Regions from separate parts of the Homo sapiens genome. Here region 1 is linked to region 2. The links come from fine-mapping of genetic effects on gene expression. Tissue or cell type: whole blood. Region 2 holds a variant in brackets; the other region holds the start of a gene. All regions are shown on one strand. Distances are between the middles of the regions.

Region 1 (7,140 bases), 33 kb after region 2:
AGATCGCGCCACTGCACTCCAGCCTGGGCGACAAAGCGAAACTCCATATCAACAACAACAACAACAAAAAGGGACCCCAGACCTCAGATCAGTCTGCAAGGCTCTCCCCTCCCAAGATCCACCCCGCTGGCCCCAAAACCTGCTGTGTGGCCTGCTGCTCCTCGATGTAGCGAGATGTGGCCGAGACTGCGCTGGCATCCAGCAGGTCGCTGGGTGACTTCTGGGCAGCTGGCTTGCCTGCGAGTATCTGCAGGGGCACACAACATAGGCTCAGGGAGAGACCCCAACTCACAGCGGGGCCTGTGGGGCAAATCCCCACGGTGGTAAGTCAGGGGGGCAGACTCTGGGGCAGGACAGCCTGCATTCCCCACTCACCACTTACTAGCAAGGTGACCCAGAGACCCCATCATTTGGCTTCCTTGTGCCTCAGTTTCCTCATCTGTAAAATGCAGAGAGCAGGATGGGGCATGGTAGCTCATGCTTGTAATCCCAGCACTCTGGGAGGTGGAGGTGGGCAGATAACTTGAGGTCAGGAGCTCGAGACCAGCCTGGCCAACATGGTGAAACCCCATCTCTACTAAAAATACAAAAATTGGGCCGGGCACAGTGGCTCACACCTGTAATCCCAGCACTTTGGGAGGCCGAGGTAGATGGATCACGAGGTCAAGAGTTTGAGAGCAGCCTGGCCAACATGGTGAAATCCCGTCTCTACTAAAAATACAAAAATTAGCCAGGCTTGGTGGCGGGTGCCTGTAATCCCAGCTACTAGGGAGGCTGAGGCAGGTCAGAATCACTTGAACCTGGGAGGCTGAGGTTGCAGTGAGCCGAGATCACACCACTGCACTCCAGCCTGGGTGACAGGTTAAGACCTTCTCTCAAAAAAAAAAAAAAAAAAAAAAATTACCGGGTGTGGCAGTGCATGCCTGTAATCCCAGCTACTTGTGAGGCTAAGGCAGCAGAATCGCTTGAACCTGGGGGGCGGTGGTTGCAGTGAGCTGAGATCGCACCACTGCATTTCCAGCCTGGGTGTCAGAGTGACCTTGCCTCAAAAAAAAAAAAAATAAAATAAAATGGGAAGAGCTAGAATCCGTGTTTCCTGGGTTGAAATGAGGATTTAAAGAATTAATTGATGGGGGACACTTACAGCAGTGCCCAACACATAGTAATGCTAGTAAATGTCACATTTTACTATTTGTTTATTTTTGGGGGGATTTTAGCTGGGATTACAGGCACCTGCCACCACATCCAGCTAATTTTTGTATTTTTACTAGTGATAGGGTTTCCCCATGTTGGCCAGGCTGGTCTCGAACTCCTGACCTCAAGTGATCCACCTGCCTCAGCCTCCCAAAGTGCTGGGATTACAGGCGTGAGCTACCATGCCTGGCCCAACAGATGTTTGTTTGTTTGTCTGAGACAGAGTCTTGCTCTGTCACCTAGGCTGGAGTGCAGTGGTGTGATCTCGCCTCACTGCAACCTCCACCTCCCGGGTTCAAGCAATTCTCCTGCCTCAGCTTCCCAAGTATCTGAGATTACAGGTGATCACCACCACGCCTGGCTAATTTTTGTATTTTTTGTAGAGACAGGGTTTCATCATGTTGGCCAGGCTGGTCTCGAACGCCTGACCTCAGGTGATCCACTTGCCTGGGCCTCCCAAAGTGCTGAGATTTTAGGTGTGAGCCACCGTGCCCGGCTCCAACAGATGTATTTTAGAGTTTGGACTTGAATTCCCCCAAGGCAGCACATCTGGAAGGCACGTGGGCACTGCTATGGGATGACAAACTGGGAGGAGCCTCAGTCCCCCACCCTCCCCGACCCCACGTACGCTTATGAGGGAGAGAGAAAGGCTGGTGGTTCTCAACATATGAAAAATATCAACAGAGAACACCAAGAGAAAAAGTGGACTGACAGAGGTGGTTGGGAGAAACACAGAAACACACACACACACACACACACACACACACACACGGCAGGCACATTACAGAGGAAACTAGCAGATATTAGGATATGAGGGGGGAAAATGCAGATACACTCAGAGGCCAAGTGCACGCACCCAAATAGGTTAGGTGCATGCACAGATGAAAAGGCGGGGGCGGATCACCTGAGGTAGGGAGTTTGAGACCAGCCTGGCCAACATGGGGAAACCCTGTCTCTACTAAAAACACAAAAATTAGCTGGGCATGGTGGCACACTCCTGTTGTCCCAGCTACCCAGGAGGCTGAGGCAGGAGAATTGCTTGAACCCGGAAGGTGGAGGTTTCAGTGAGTCAAGATTGCACCACTGCACCCCAGCCTGGGCAACATGCCAAGACTCCATCTCAAAAAAAAAAAAGGAAGCTGGCCGGGCGCGGTGGCTCACGCCTGTAATCTCAGCATTTTGGGAGGCTGAAGCTAGTGGATCACAAGGTCAGGAGATCAAGACCATCCTGGCCAACATGATGAAACTCCGTCTCTACTAAAAATACAAAAATTGGCCGGGCGTGGTGGCTCACACCTGTAATCCCAGCACTTTGGGAGGCCGAGGCAGGTGGATCACGAGGTCAAGAGTTCAAGACCAGCCTGGCCAAGATGTTGAAGCCCCGTCTCTACTAGAAATACAAAATTTAGCCACGCATGGTGGTGGGTGCCTGTAATCCCAGCTACTCGGGAGGCTGAGACAGAATTGCTTGAACCCGGGAGGCGGAGGCTGCAGTGAGCCGAGATCACGTCACTGCACTCCAGCCTGGGCGACAGAGCAACACTCCGTCTCAAAAAAAAAAAAAAAAAAAAAAATTAGCCGGGTGTGGTGGCATGTGCCTGTATTACAGCTACTCAGGAGGCTGAGGCTGGAGAATCGTTGAGCCCAGGAGGCGGAGGTTGCAGTGAGCCGAGACTGCGCCACTGCACTCCAGCCTGGCAACAGAGTGAGACTGCATCTCAAAAAAAAAAAAAAAAAAAAAAAAAAGGAAGTTATGTGCGATGGCTCACGCCTGTAATCCCAGCACTTTGGAAGGCTGAGGCAGGCAGATCAGTTGATGTGAGGGGTTTGAGACCAGACTGACCAACATGACAAAACCCTATTAAAAATACAAAAATTAGGCCAGGCGCAGTGGCTCATGCCTGTAATTCCAGCACTTTGGGAGGCTGAGGCAGGTGGATCACCTGAGGTTGGGAGTTCAAGATCAGCCTGACCAACATGGAGAAACCCCGTCTCTACTAAAAATACAAAATTAGCCAGGCATGGTGGCGTATGCCTATAATCCCAGCTACTCGGGAGGCTGAGGCAGGAGAATTGTTTGAACCCAGGAGGCGGAGATTGCGGTGAGCCGAGATTGCACCATTGCACTCCAGCCTGGGCAACAAGAGTGAAACTCCATCTCAAAAAAAAAAAAAAAAAAATACAGAAGTTACCCTGGCATGGTGACGAGCACCTGTAATCCCAGCTACTTGGGAGGCTGAGGCAGGAGAATCGCTTGAACCCAGGAGGCAGAGGTTGCAGTGAGCTGAGATCAAGCCACTGCACTCCAGCCTGGGCAACAGAACAAGACTCTGTCTCAAAGAAAAAAAAAAGAGTAAAAGGCAGGCATGCGTCCTGGAAACAGGTGCACACAGGACAAATGGCATGGAAGCAGAAAGGAGATAGGTACACAGGCCCCCAGCCCTCTCCTGCAACAGGAAACCAGTATAGACCCAGAGGACACAGTAGAGAGGAACCCACGGACATATACACATAGAGAGGTTCAGGTGCACACACCGAGAAAGTGCAGGCAGGTAGACAGCAAGAAGATAACTGCCCACAGAGAGGACGGGCACTGTCGCAAAAGGGACAGGTGAACACGCACAGAGGGATCTGGCTTGGTTACCCCCAGGGGCTCAGGTGGGCAGGGTGGGTCAGGAAGGCTTACCTCTCTGTTATTCCTCTCCAAAAATGCTACGGCTGTTGGGCTGACCATATGGTCCTTCATTTCCTGGAGGTAAGGACAGCATTAGGGAGGAAAGACACTCAGGCTGGGCGCGGTGGCTCACGCCTGTAATCCTAGCACTTTGAGAGACCAAGCCGGGTGGATCACCTGAGGTCAGGAGTTCGAGACCAGCCTGATCAACATGGTGAAACCCCGTCTCTACTAAAAACACAAAACTTAGCCGGGTATCGTGGCAGGCACCTGTAGTCCCAGCTACTCAGGAGACTGAGACACAAGAATCGCTTGAGCCTGGGAGGCGGAGGTTGCAGTGAGCCGAGATTGCAACACTGTACTCCAGCCTGGGCGACAGAGCGAGGCTCTGTCTCAAAAAAAAAAAAAAAAAAGAAAGAAAGAAAGAAAAAAAAACACACTCAAACCTTCCCCCACTCCCCGCCTGCAGGACCTTTCCTGACCTGGACTGCCTCTCGCATCCGCTCCACGAACACCTTTCTCTCCTGCAGGTCCCCGGCTGGGAGCTTGAACTTGCCTGGGTTGGCTTCCACTATACGTGGGCTGAGAGTCAAGGGTCAAGGCCGGAGCCAGATATCATCCCCGTCCCTAGGGGTCCAGCCCTACCCGAAGGTGGGCTGCCACCGCAATGGGCTCTCCCATGCCACCCTCTGCCACAAAGCCCCAGGATATCGATGGTCTCTTCCAGGTCCTCGAGGTCCCACTCGATGCTGCGCAGGCCATTCCGCAGCTCATTGGTCGTCCAGTCCAGCTCCTCGCGTCCGACCGCCGCGCTTTCCTGCAGGAGCTCGCACCAGCGCTGGTACAGCCCGCGGGCCGTGTTCACCGCCTTCTGCACCTCGCTGCGGGCAGGGGCACGGCGGGCGCGGCTGGGGGCAGGCGGTCCTCCCGCCTGCCTCTGCCCCCGACTGCAAACCCAAACGCATGGGGGACTCCGGAGACCCCTATATACCCCTGCGTGCGCCTCCCACTCTGCACCCCGACGGCCTTGCCCAGCCCGCCGGGCACGCTGGGGCCGGCACCCGGGCACTGGCTGGCTTGGGTACAGAGCACCCTCCGCCCTCCCCCGTCGTTGTCACTCACCCTCGGACTACAAAAAAGGGGTCTTCGAGAGACATGTCAGTCCCTTCCCCCCCAGGCCGAACCCCCCTCCCGGCCTGGGTTCGCGGGCTGGTTCCCTCCCAACCGAGGAGAACGCGCCGCCACCCCCGCCCCCGTCACGCCACCATCGAGAGCCGGACCGCCAGGGGAGAAAGAGAAGCCTCGGAGGCCCGACGTGCGGACACTTCCGCCCTCTCCTCAGCCATCTTGGTTGTGGGCAGAGGCAGCTTCCGGTGCACATGCCCCCGCCCCTTAGCCCTCTCGTGCCGCACCGTAGGGGGCGGTGTCGGAGTTCTGTCTGGGCCTATTCGGGTCCGAGTTCGGAATTTCGGTTCAAGGCCCAGTTCCTCGGATTGTTCCTGCGCAACTTCAGTTTCCCTTCCAGGCACGGGCAATGTAAATAATGATAGCCTCCCTCATCTCTGGCGGCTGGGTATTATGGCTGGGGAAGGGGCTCATTCGATTCGTTGAAGCTTTTCATGGACTCCCTGAGCTGGCACCTGGGAGATCGTCCCATCCCAGGGTCCCGAGTGTCAGGTTTGGCTAGGGTCTGGGGGAGAGGTGGTCCTCCCTTCTCCCTGCGGGGGCGCGGTGAGGAGCGGGCCTGCTCCTCCGGGGAGTTCTGCCGCATTCTCCCAATCTCTTTCCTGAGAAGTGGCGGAGTTGGGGGCACTTCGAGGTCGCCTTGGGGCGAGGTGGTCGTGAGGGGGTCCCAGATATGCCAGCAGCGGGGGGAGGTCACCTTTGAGAAAGTGCGTGGAGGTGGGTTTCTTCAGAAGCGCGGAGTCTTTCTGGGTGCGAGCCTGGGGGTAGCGGGTGGTGGCTTTGAGGATGGTCTCCAGGGGGGCCCTCTGTGTGTGGGGTCTCCGTCTGGGTAGGGGCCAGGAATATCAGCGGAGGGACTCAGGGTCGTCCCTATGTGTGACAGTGGCGCTGTGTGTTGGGGAGCTTCGGGAAAGCACTTTTTTTGAGTGATAGGGGGCCTGGTCTCCCCTGGAGGGTGGGCGGGTTATCTGAGGGAGTCCTCGGAGGGTCGCCCCCTTGCGCGTCAGAGTTGCTGCGTGGGGTCTCAGAGATAGCGCCTGGGCTGGGGAAATCATTGTGGGGTCTCCGTGGTAAGGTTAGCGGGGTGGGGACGGCCTGCGTCTTCGGCAGGTCGTCGCAGTCTGGCACCATCGTTGAATGGGGACGAGTTTGGGAAGGGTATTTTAGGGGGGAATAACTTTTGAGTTCCCAGCGTGCGGGGGAAGGGCGGGACGGGAGGGTGTCCCAAGGCCTGAGAAGATCAGTGTGGGGCAGGGGTCAGGAATAACCTGGGAGGGGGCCTTGTATGGGGGAAATAATTGGGAAGAGGAGAGATGGGATGAAGGGGGCCTCAGCGGGTCGTCTCCTGTGTATGCAGGGTCGTTCTGCAGCGTCTCTGGGAGATGGCGTCCCTGGGAGCCCTCAGGTCGCCCCTACCCGCTGCGGGGTGCTTTCCTGGCGTCACGCCTTCCTGGCCCCTGGAGGGAAGGAAGTGAAACTCTCCTCTTCCCCCACCCGGCTGGAATGCGAGTCAGGAAGCCTGGGGCTCCAGCCTGCTCCGGCTGCCCGGGTCGGGGATGGGGAGGGGCGTGGCCGGAGCGCAAAGCCCCGCCCCTCCGCGCCCCCCCCCCGGAAGCCCCGCCGCCGGCCGCTAAGGCGATCACGGGCCCTGTCCTAATATGGGCAACCGGAAGCGGCCCGCGCGACTGCCCTACGTCACTCCGTCCAAATTTAGTTGTGGAAGTCAGCGGGCGCTGGTGGCGGGAAGGCGCCGCGAGCCAGTGCGGGCGGAAAGGGGGCGGGGGGCGCACCACCCCTTAAAGGGCCCGCACCAGGAATGAATGGAGCCATTCGAACAATTCTGCATCCTATTTTTGGAGGAAGTGGAATTAGTATTTCTTGGAGAGACGGCGCGTAGCGGAGGGTAGGGCGGAGATTTTCTATCTGCTCTGTCTCTGCATTGCTGGGTTTCCAGCTCCCAACCTAACCCCGCCTCCCCGAACGCGGAGACGGAACTCGGCCCCCTTGTTTGGGGGGCGGCAGCCACGTGTTCACGGGGACTGTCGTGCGCGCCGGGTTCGCAGCCGTGCGAGCTCTGAACCCACCCG
Region 2 (10,291 bases):
CCTGTCTGTGGCACTGCTGGGGGCACTAAACGAGTGAGGAAAGCATAGATCCAACCTATTCTGACCAGCATTATCGGTGTGCCATGTGGCATGTACTGAGGACCCACGTTCCAGCCCCCAAGGGCTCTGTGGGCAGGAAGTGGGGATACTAGGTGCTGTAGAACTGCTGGGGCCTGGGCCGGGCGTGGTGGCTCATGCCTGTAATCCCAGCACTTTGGGAGGCTGGTCAGGAGTTTGAGACCAGCCTGGCTAACATGATGAAATCCCCGTCTCTACTAAAAATACAAAAAATTAGCTGGGTGTGGTGGCGGGCGCCTGTAATCCCAGCTACTAGGGAGGCCGAGGCAGGAGAATCACTTGAACCTGGGAGGCGAAGGTTGCAGTTAGCTGAGATCTCACCACTGCACTCCAGCCTGGGCAACAAGAGTGAAACTCCATCTCAAAAAAGAAAAAAAAGCAAAACGGCTAGGGCTTTCCTGCTAGTGTGAGACTCTGATATGGGAAAGGAGACAGCATTTCCCGGGCTGACTTCATGACAGGACCCTTTAGGAACAAGGGCAAGAGCCCTCTGTGGACCACGCTGGAGTGCAGTGGCACTATCAAAGCTCACAATAACTTTGAACTCCTAGGCTCAAGTGATCCTCCTGCCTCAGCCTCCAGAGTAGCTGGGACCACAGGCATCCACCACCACACCTAGGTAATTTTTAGGGTTTTTTTGTAGAGATGGGGTCCTCGCTATGTTGCCCAGGTTCCTGACCTCAAGTGATCCTCCCACCTTGGCCTCCGAAAGTGCTAGGATTACAGGCATGAGCCGCTGCACTTCGCCACTCAGCCTTCTTGAATCCTGATCAGACACTCAATAGGGTCAGACCATTTTTTTTTTTTTTTTTTGAGACAGAGTTTTGCTCTTGTTGCCCAGGCTGGAGTGCAATGGTGCCATCTCGGCTCACCGCAACCTCCACCTCCCGGGTTCAAGTGATTCTCCTGCCTCAGCCTCCCGAATAGCTGGGATTACAAGCACCCACCACCACGCCCAGCTAATTTTTTTTTTTTTTTTTTTGTATTTTTAGTAGAGACGGGGTTTCACCATGTTGGCCAGGGTGCTCTTGAACACCTGACCTCTTGAACACCGCCCACCTCGGCCTCCCAGAGTGCTGGGATTACAGGCGTGAGCCACCGCGCCCGGCCTATTTTTTTTTCTTTTTTTTGAGACAGAGTCTTGCTCTGTCGCCCAGGCTGGAGTGCAGTGGCACAGTCTCAGCTCACTGCAAGCTCCACCTCCTGGGTTCACGCCATTCTCCTGCCTCCGCCTCCCGAACAGCTGGGACTACAGGTGCCCGCTACCATGCCTGGCTAAGTTTTTGTATGTTTAGTGGAGATCAGATTTCACCATGTTAGCCAGGATGGTCTCAATCTCCTGACCTCATGATCCGCCCACCTCGACTTCCCAAAGTGCTGGGATTACAGGCGTGAGCTACCACGCCCGGCCTATTTTTTTTCTTTTTGAGATGGGGTCTCCCTCCCAGGCTGGCGTGCAGCGGAGTGATCTTGGCTCACTGCAACCTCGCCTCCTGGGTTCAAGTGATTCTCCTGCCTCAGCCTCCTGAGTAGCCGGGATTACAGGTATCTGCCACCATGCCTGGCTAATTTTTGTATTTTTAGTAGAGATGGGGTTTTACCATGTTGGCCAGCTGGTCTCAAAGTCCTGACCTCAGGTGATCCACCTGCCTAGGCCTCCCAAAGTGCTGGGATTACAGGTGTGAGCCACTGCGCCCGGCCTTCAGACCATCATTGTGCCCATTTTACAGATGCAAAAAAACCCGAGGACCAGAAAGGTGAAGTCACTTGCCCAGAGCTACCAGCAAAGCTAGGATTTAAACCCAGTCCTGGAAAAACGACCTTTAAAAAAAAAATTTTTTTTTGAAAAGTTGTTTTAATACAGAAAACTAAAATAATGTGGCCATGCACTCCTGTCCTGGCCAAAGCCACTGTCCCCAAATGACCATGATTATCAGCCATGCTCTTAGGAACTATGTGGGTTGAAGACACGCCTGTCGTTAACAGCCTGGGATGCATCTGGCCATCAGCCTGGAGGAAGCTGAGCAGGTCTGAGGAGGGGGAAAGTGTATTGGGAAGGGACTCAGACAACCACCTGTCCCCCGGTCTCCCTGGCTGGCTGGCAGAGGGCCCCTCACCATCTCGTGGCAGGCCCGGCTCTTGAGGGCCATGGCCCCGTACTTGCTGTAGCACGTCTCCCCGCTGTTCCCCGCCAACACCGCCATGTCTGTGCAGGTCACACACAGCAACCCTGCAGAGAGGGGCTGGGCAGTGAGAACCCTCCAACACCCCAAGCCCTGCTCCCACCCCAGTGCCATCCCCACCTCACCTCCTTCACTCACAGCCTGCACAGCTGCATCCAGGAAGGTGGCTGGGCTGCCATAGGGGTCCAGATCGATGACGTCAAACCTCTCCGACACCCTCTGGTGCTGGTACATCAGCATCCTGGGTGCAAAGAGGGCCAGGTCCTCAGCCTCCCACGCCAGGTACCTTCTCTGTCCCCTACACATATTAACTCGTACAGCACAGTGGTTTGGGTCTGAACTCCGGGGCCAGATTCCCAAGTTCAAGTCCTGGCTCAGTCATTTATTTATTTATTTATTTTATTTTTGAGTCGGAGTCTTGCTCTGTCAGCCAGCTGGAGTGCAGTGTTGTGATCTCGGCTCCCTGCAACCTCCGCTTCCCCAGTTCAAGCAATTCTCGCGCCTCAGCCTCCCGAGTAGAGTAGCTGGGACTACAGACATGTGCCACCACGCCCAGCTAATTTTTGTATTTTTAGTAGAGATGGGGTTTCAACATGTTGGCCAGGCTGGTCTCAAACTCCTGACCTCAAGTGATCCATCCACCTCGGCCTCCCAAAGTGCTGAGATTACAAGTGTGAGCCACTGCACTGGCCTTGGTCATTTATTAAACTGCACAATTTTCCTACTTAGGAAAAGCACCATGTGGAACTCAGTCCACACATCTAAAACAACAACAATACTGATATAAGACGTATCTGCCTGACACCATTTCAAGCAGTTTATAGATGTATTAACACATTTTTTTTTTCCTTTCTTTGGAGACAGAGTCTCGCTGTGTCACCCAGGCTGGAGTGCAGTGGTGGGTTCTCGGCGCACTGCAACTTCCACCTCCTGGGTTCAAGCGATTCTCCTGCCTCAGCTTCCCAAGTAGCTGGGATTACAGGCACGTGCCACCATGCCTGGCTAATTTTTATATTTTTAGTAGAGACGAGGTTTTACCATGTTGGCCAGGCTGGTCTCGAGCTCCTGACCTCAAGTGATCCGCCCACCTCGGCCTTCCAAAGTGCTGGGATTACAGGGGTGAGCCACTGCGTCTGACCTCATTTTAAAATTTTTGTAGAGACGGGTTTCACTGTGTTGCCTAGGCTGGTCTTGAAATCCTGGCCTCAAGCGATCCTCCTGCCTTGGCCTCTCAAAATGCTTGATTACAGGCATGAGTCACCATGCCCAGCTAATTACTTTTCATTGTCTGTGATTACTATTTGGATTCTAGTAAGGTCAGAAAAGTAAAAACTTTTTTCTCTGTAAAAGGTCAGAAGGTATTTTAGGCTTTGTGAGTCATATGTGGTCCCTACTGCATAGTCTTCTTTTTTAACCTTTAAAAATGTAAAAAACATTCTTGGGTTGTGGGCCATTGATAAACTAGGCTAGGCCGGGCGCAGTGGCTCACGTCTGTAATCCCAGCACTTTGGAAGGCCGAGGTGGGCAGATCACTTGAGGTCAGGAGTTTGAGACTAGCCTGGCCAACATGGCAAAACCCTGTCTCTACTAAAAATATAAAAATTAGCCTGGCATAGCCAGGTGCAGTGGCTCATGCCTATAATCCCACCACTTTGGGAGGCCGAGGCGGGCAGATCACGAGGTCAGGAAATCGAGACCATCCTGGCCACCATGGTGAAACCCCATCTCTACTATAAATACAGGTGGGTGTGGTAGCAGATGTCTGTAGTCCCAGCTACTCAGTCGGGAGGCTAAGGCAGGAGAATCACTTGAACCTGGGAGGCGGAGGTTGCAGTGAGCCAAGATCACGCTAGTGCACTCTAGCCTGGGCAACAGAGCGAGACTCCGTGTCAAAAAATAAATAAATAAATAAAAATAAAAATTAGCCAGGCGTGGTGGCACGTGCCTGTAATCCCAGCTACTCGGGAGGCTGAGGCAGGGGAATGGCTTGAACCCGGGAGGCGGAGGTTGCAATGAGCTGAGATCGTGCCACTGCACTCCAGCCTGGGCAACAAGGGCGAGACTACATCTCAAAAAACAAACAAACAAGCAAACAAACAAAAAAAGGCTGTGAGCCCCACAGGCTATAGTTTGCCAACTCTTGCGAAGGTCACCAATTTTGCATGTTTTGTTTCCTGATGCATTTCCAGTTCTTGAAAACGGTGCCTGACACATAGCAGACACTGGATATACTATGGCTCATTTGAATGAATAAAAGGAGTGTAAGAAGTTAAAACAGAGACCAGGATGCTACTTATTTCTGGCACAGAGTATGGATCATACCATAATTATCTATTACTCATCACAGCAACCCCTGTAAAACTAATTTTCTCAGTTGACAGACAAGGAAACTGGGGCTCAAAGAGGCTAAGTCACTCACTCAAGGTCACAGAGTGAGAATGTGACAGAGCCAGAATTTGACCCCAGGCAGGCTTGTCCCAGAGCTAGGCTGTGATGCCCAGAACCTACCGGGCATCTGCTTGGCTCGGCTGTACCAGGTGGGCCACGTCATTGAGCTGGACATTCCGGCGTATGAGATCCACAGCCCGGGTGGAGGCATCGTTTGCAACCACAGATCTGAGCCCAGGCACCTCTAGGGCAAATCGAATGGAACGTAGGCCTGAAGCTGCCAGGCCTTCCAGCACATGCAGGCCTTCCTGTTGGAGTAAGCAGAAAACCTCCCTCACATCTCCACCTCCATCCTCTTCTGGGCCCCAAGGAGCCCCCACCACCCACCTCCTATAGCTCTCCCCCTCCAGGAGCCCTCTGTCTCCCGCTAAATTCCAGGGCTGCCAGCTCCTATGCTCAGGCCCCACCTCACAGATCTCCCCCACGGCCGCTGTGCGAGGTTGGTCTCCTGAGGCCAGGTTTTCACTCTCTTTCAGTTCAACCTTTTCCTCCTCTTGCTCTGACAAGTCCACGACCACTTTTTGCGTGTCCTTCTCTCCTGGAACCTTGACTGCAGCCACCCAGAGGCACAAGTCAGAGAATAACAAGGTCCCCTCTGAGAAACCTCCCCTTAATCTCCAAAATATCGTCCCTGAAATCCCTGCGGAAAGGCTGAAGGAGCAGAACCCAGGGCCTGCTATGTGGCTGAAGCCCCTCTGGATTTGGGCGGCAGAAGAGCCCAGGCAGGGAGATAAACTTGTGTGACCCCCGCCCACCAGAAGCCTGGACCTCCACTCACTCTGGATTCCTTTGGCCCCAAGCTGAATGCGAGCAAACTCGGTGATCACAGCACATCTGGTGGGAGACAGAGGACTAGCTCATACCCCG[C/A]CCCCGCCATCCACACTGACCCACTAGCCGATGCCAGGCTAACGTCTGACCCCTGCTCACGTCAGGTCCCGATTGAATTCCTGCACCGGGTTATAAAAGACCTCGTTGGCACTGGGAAAGGCGATTTTGGCAGCCCCCTCGGTGACTGTCGTCTCCTGGACTTCACGTGGACGTTCTTCTCCGTAGGGCCCGGTGCCGTTCTCCATCGCTGCTGTATTCGGCAGCCCTGGAGACTGCCACTCGAAAAACCGGGCTCTAGAGAGCACCCGGGCGGAGCGGAAAGTGAGGCTTAGCCACAGAGACGATCCTTGCATGAGACATCCGCTGGCGCCTCCGCCCGCCAAGCCTGGTTCGGGGGGCGGGGGAGGGCACAGAGAGGGTCAGAGAGCCGCATTCCGGGCCCGGGGATGTCCTACATATCTATGAGGTAGGGACTAGGAAAACCTGCGGCCTCGGTAAGCTGATATCCCCTCGTTTTGGGGATGACTGGTCCCTGTGGAGCCGATGCCCTCGTGCAGGCCCGCCCCGAGTCCGAATCCCTCCCCGCGCTGCCTAGCCCGTCCTCACCTGCTCTCGTAGCCACAGAAAACCGAATTAGTCAAGGTGCACGTTTCCCGAATTAGGACCTGGGCGCCGCCATGTTGGCACAGTGGGTGGGCGAATCACATGATAGTGGTTGGCCAGTCAATGAGGAAACGTACGGTGGGCGGCCGGGATCAAAATGAAAGCCATAAAGGAAGCGCGCTGATCGTGCTGTTCCGGGGGTGTTAATCACAGTGGATCCCCTGGGAGAGGACACGTCCCTAGTCCCATTTCACAGATGAGGAAGTTGTGGCTCAGAAAAGGGGCGGTAAGCGGAGAAACCCAACACTTATTGGTCCTCTTCTGTGTTCTGGGTGCTATATACACATTATTTCAGAGCACCCTGCAGGAATGACTCAGGCTCTGGAGTTGGATTTACCGGGTTTGAATCTCAGTCCCATCACATGCTCTGGGCAGGTTACTCCCGCGGCTTCACTTTTCTTACCTATTAAATGAGAATCGTGGTTTCTCAGATAGAGCAAAGATTAAATGACAGATTCCTGGAAAGTGTGCAAAGAACCACTCTAACATTGTAAGCGCTCGGTAAAGTTCTAACCAGTGTATGAAGGCAGGACAGCGAAGTGGTCCCGGCTACCTGGGTTCCAGTCTCAGCTCGCCCTGCGACTTGTTAACTCTGAACTTAAGTTACCGCTTTTGCAAAATGGGCAGAACTTTTTTTTACCATTTGTTACTGGGTTGTAGTGAGAAGTAAACGAGTTAGTGCAGGTAAAATGCTAACAGAACCTAGCATCCGGTAAGCATCATAAAAGTCTTAGGTCTTATTGTCGCTTTTGAGCCTGTGTTTAAATCCTGGCACCTACCATCACTTCCTTGCTGTGTGATGATCTTGACCAGCTTTCTTCATTTCTCTGTGCCTCCTTTTCTTTCTTTCTTTCTTTTTTTTTTTTTTTTGAGACGGAGTCTCGCCCAGGCTGGAGTGCAGTGGCATGATCTCGGCTCACTGCAACCACCGCCTCCCGGGTGCAAGCGATTCTTCTGCCTCAGTCTCCCGAGTAGCTGGGATTACAAGCGCATGCCATCACGCCCGGCTAATTTTTGTATTTTTAGTAGAGACAGAGTTTCACCATATTGGCCAGGCTGGTTTCGAACTCCTGACCTCAGGCGATCCACCCACCTCGGTCTCCCAAAGTGCTGGGATTACAGGCGTGAGACACCGCGCCCAGCTGCCTTTATTTTCTATAGTGTGTCTGTAGCAGTTCTCACTAAAAAATGTTACTGTGTAGTTTAAACGAGCTAATTCCCATAAAGAATGTAACGCAGTGCCTGCCACAATAAACAGCAGTCATTATTGTTTTTGTTTTACAGGAAACTAAAGTTCGGAAAGGTAGAGCGACTTGCCCAAGGTCGCGGGACTAGAAGGTGGCGGGGCCAGGATTCGAACCATCGAGCTGAGCCGACGTACTGGCGAGGATCCCCCAGGGGCATAGAGAGGAGACGGAGCCGGTTAGAAGGGGCGCGCTCGGAGCTCGGCTGGCCTCGCCTGGAGGGCGGGGCCCGAGGGCGGTGCGCGGGCGGGGCCGGGGCCGCTCCTCCCTGGCCTGGCTGCGGCGGCAGCGCGGCTTGCGCTCGCTCGGCGCTCGGCTGGGGCGGCCTGGCCCACAATGAATGGCCGCCGCGGCTGCCGCTGCTGCTGAGGCGGAGGCCGCGGAGGCCGCGGAGGCGGAGGCCGAGGCCCCGGCGCAGCGGGGCGCGCCCCGGGCCCAGGCCCGGCCCCAGCCGCCGCTGCGGAGCCCGCCGGGACCCCCCGGAGCGCGGCCACGGCGCAGGTGAGGCGGCCCGCCTCAGGCCCGGTTCCGGCCTCCTCCAGCCGGGGCGGCCCGAGGGCTGAGTGGGGAGGGCCTGGGTGCTTTCTCGGACCGAGGAGGAGCCGGGCCCGCAGCCTGCACTGTGCCCGGGCAGGCGAGTGTGTGGAGGCCCAGCTACCGCGGGCGGCCTTGAGCGTCCAGCCCGAGCTTCAGGGCTTGGGGGCGGCAGGATCGTACCTGGACCGCTCCCCCGTCTCCCAGCGAGGGAGGGGGCCAGGTCGGGCCGGGGCAGGTACCGGGGATCCGGGGAAGTTGGAGGGTCCGAGGCGGAAAAGTGAGGAGGTTCTCGTGGATGCCGGAGGGGGAGGGGGAGGGGGAGGAGGAGTCGGGCTCCGGCCAGGCCGAGTGGGGGAGGAGAGGAGAGCGGCGCGGCCGGAGGGGGGCGGGGAGGGGCCGGGCCTGCAGGTACCGCCTGGGCGCTGGAGGAGGTGGGTGGGTCAAGTTACAGGCCTGGGGGCGGCTGAGGAGAAGCCCAGGAAGTGGGGCACGGCGGGTGTGGGCGGAGTTACTTCGTGTGGGGGCGGATAGGAGATCCCAGAGATGTTTTCCGGGGGTCACATGAGGTCAGGACTCAGATGTGGGGAGGGGGAGGCTAGATGTGGGGGCGATCAGGTAAGGTGAGGGACTGCTGTAGGAGTTTTGGGAGTCGAGAGAGCAGAGCCTTTTGGGCTAGGCTAGGGGGGATGTGGGGGCAGGTCAGGAAAAGCTGGTGTGACCAGAAGGTATATACTAAGATGCGCCCCCCACCGCCCCCAACTCAAGTGTTAAGGGGTTCCGTCTTTCTCACACCTCATCCCTGAAGCCTCTAGAGTCCTGACCCTACCCCTTGGGCAAGCCTCTGCCAACTGTTCAAAGGCACTGGCCAGTGGGTGTTTGTGTGGGCAGCTGGAGACAGTCTGGAACACCTAGCTTAGGCATCTTGTTTATCACAAGGTGGCCCTTGCCCACCCCCACCTTATATATCTACAGGGAGGCAGCCCAGCAGACGTTACCTGGGTATTTTAGGATCCTGCATTCTTTCTCTACCTTTTGTGGCCAGAAGCTGGTGGTTCAAGCCTAGTGGATGGGACCTCACAGCAACCATCGTATATATTAGTACCATGGCCTCCCAGGCACCAACTCCTTGAGCCTGAGTTCTGTGTGCCATCTCCCTGGGGGTGAAGAATTAGAGGGAATGAGCATGTAAAACTCTGTTGATGGTGGTTTGGAGGCTCCCGACGGGGTGAAGGCAGGGCACAGAGAAGAGTTAAGGGGATCAAATCAGGCACTCACACCCTGGCCCAGGGATCTACCTCTGGGACACTCGTCCTGGGCCAGGCCCTGTGCCGAGCTCGCTGGTCGGATGAGCTCATTGATGGCTCACCACCACCAGTTCAACTTAGGCCTTCTCTGGGGTCCAGACGAGGAAGCTGAGGCTCGGGGTGGTGTGGCTTGTCTCAGATCACATGAGCAGACAGTGGCTGAACTGGGATTGTCTGACCCTCAGCCCAAACCCATAGTCACTCAAGTGGCCTTCCAGGAGGGTGACTGAAGGAGCTCCTCGTTCTGGATTCCCTGGCGGGCGTTCTCCTCCGTCCAGGCCTTCCCTTCTGCTCACCCCGGGGGATGGGTCAATCCCCTTTGGGACAGACTGAGTTTCCATGGTGTCCCCGGGGAATGGAACAGTGGAGGTATCTTTCTCGGAGGCCTGGTCACCCCTTCTTCCCCATTTCCCTCCTGGGAGCCAAGAGGTCAGGAGTCATGGAACTGTGGGCTGACCGTGGGAAGCTGAGGAGGCCTGGCACCACCAGGGCTGGACTTGACTTTGCTTGCCTAGACTGTTTTTGCCCCACTTTGGCCCCCAGTCGGATGGCAGCAGCTTTTGTTCCTTTCTGGGCTAATTGCAAGGCTGTTACCAGGGTGTCCTTGGGACTTTGATTTGGGATCTTCAGCACCTGAGGCAGGAGCCACAAACTGCTGGGTCAAGTGGTGTCAGCCAGTTCTGGGTTTAATGATGGGTTGTCACCCTAATTCTCCCCAGTCTCCCTATAGTTCCCAGGACACCCTCCAACCTGGGCCCTGCCCTTCTTGCCTGTCTGGCTAGCCACTTGGTTCTAGGAGGAGTAGGAACTGGGCCAGCAGTCCCGCAAAGAGACTGAACCATCCTTCCTGGCTGGTTGGGCCAGGATTGCTGCAGGTCTGCTTCAGCACAGACTGGGTCCTCCTGGACCTAAGCTGGGTTGGATACCAGGGATAGGGGATTGGTGGTACCATCCAGTCACTTAGCTGAGACTGTTGGGAGTTGGCCCTGGTGAGTGGGGGACAGGC

What was found. PIP is the estimated chance that this variant, and not a neighbour inherited with it, causes the effect.
Region 1: STX10 starts here. The variant in region 2 is fine-mapped to the expression of STX10 in whole blood (INTERVAL, PIP 0.93).

The regions. Positions count from the first base shown.
Region 1 is chr19:13,145,149-13,152,288 of GRCh38, forward strand. STX10 (syntaxin 10) reads right to left here and starts at 5,227. Exons shown (of 8, transcript NM_003765.3): 1 at 4,991-5,227; 2 at 4,580-4,749; 3 at 4,351-4,445; 4 at 3,881-3,943; 5 at 140-247. The coding sequence starts at 5,025. IER2 (immediate early response 2) reads left to right here and starts at 5,263. Exons shown (of 2, transcript NM_004907.3): 1 at 5,263-5,404. RefSeq lists silencers at 4,738-4,787, 4,828-4,987, 6,538-6,897 and enhancers at 5,108-5,307, 5,328-5,397.
Region 2 is chr19:13,110,510-13,120,800 of GRCh38, forward strand. It overlaps TRMT1 (tRNA methyltransferase 1), which reads right to left and starts at 6,231. Exons shown (of 17, transcript NM_001136035.4): 1 at 6,144-6,231; 2 at 5,637-5,922; 3 at 5,488-5,543; 4 at 5,117-5,259; 5 at 4,770-4,957; 6 at 2,387-2,502; 7 at 2,196-2,308. The coding sequence starts at 5,890. It overlaps NACC1 (nucleus accumbens associated 1), which reads left to right and starts at 7,755. Exons shown (of 6, transcript NM_052876.4): 1 at 7,755-7,945. RefSeq lists enhancers at 6,225-6,414, 7,375-7,524, 8,800-9,301, 9,302-9,802 and silencers at 7,565-7,764, 8,315-8,364. The variant C/A (reference allele first, on the strand shown) is at 5,577.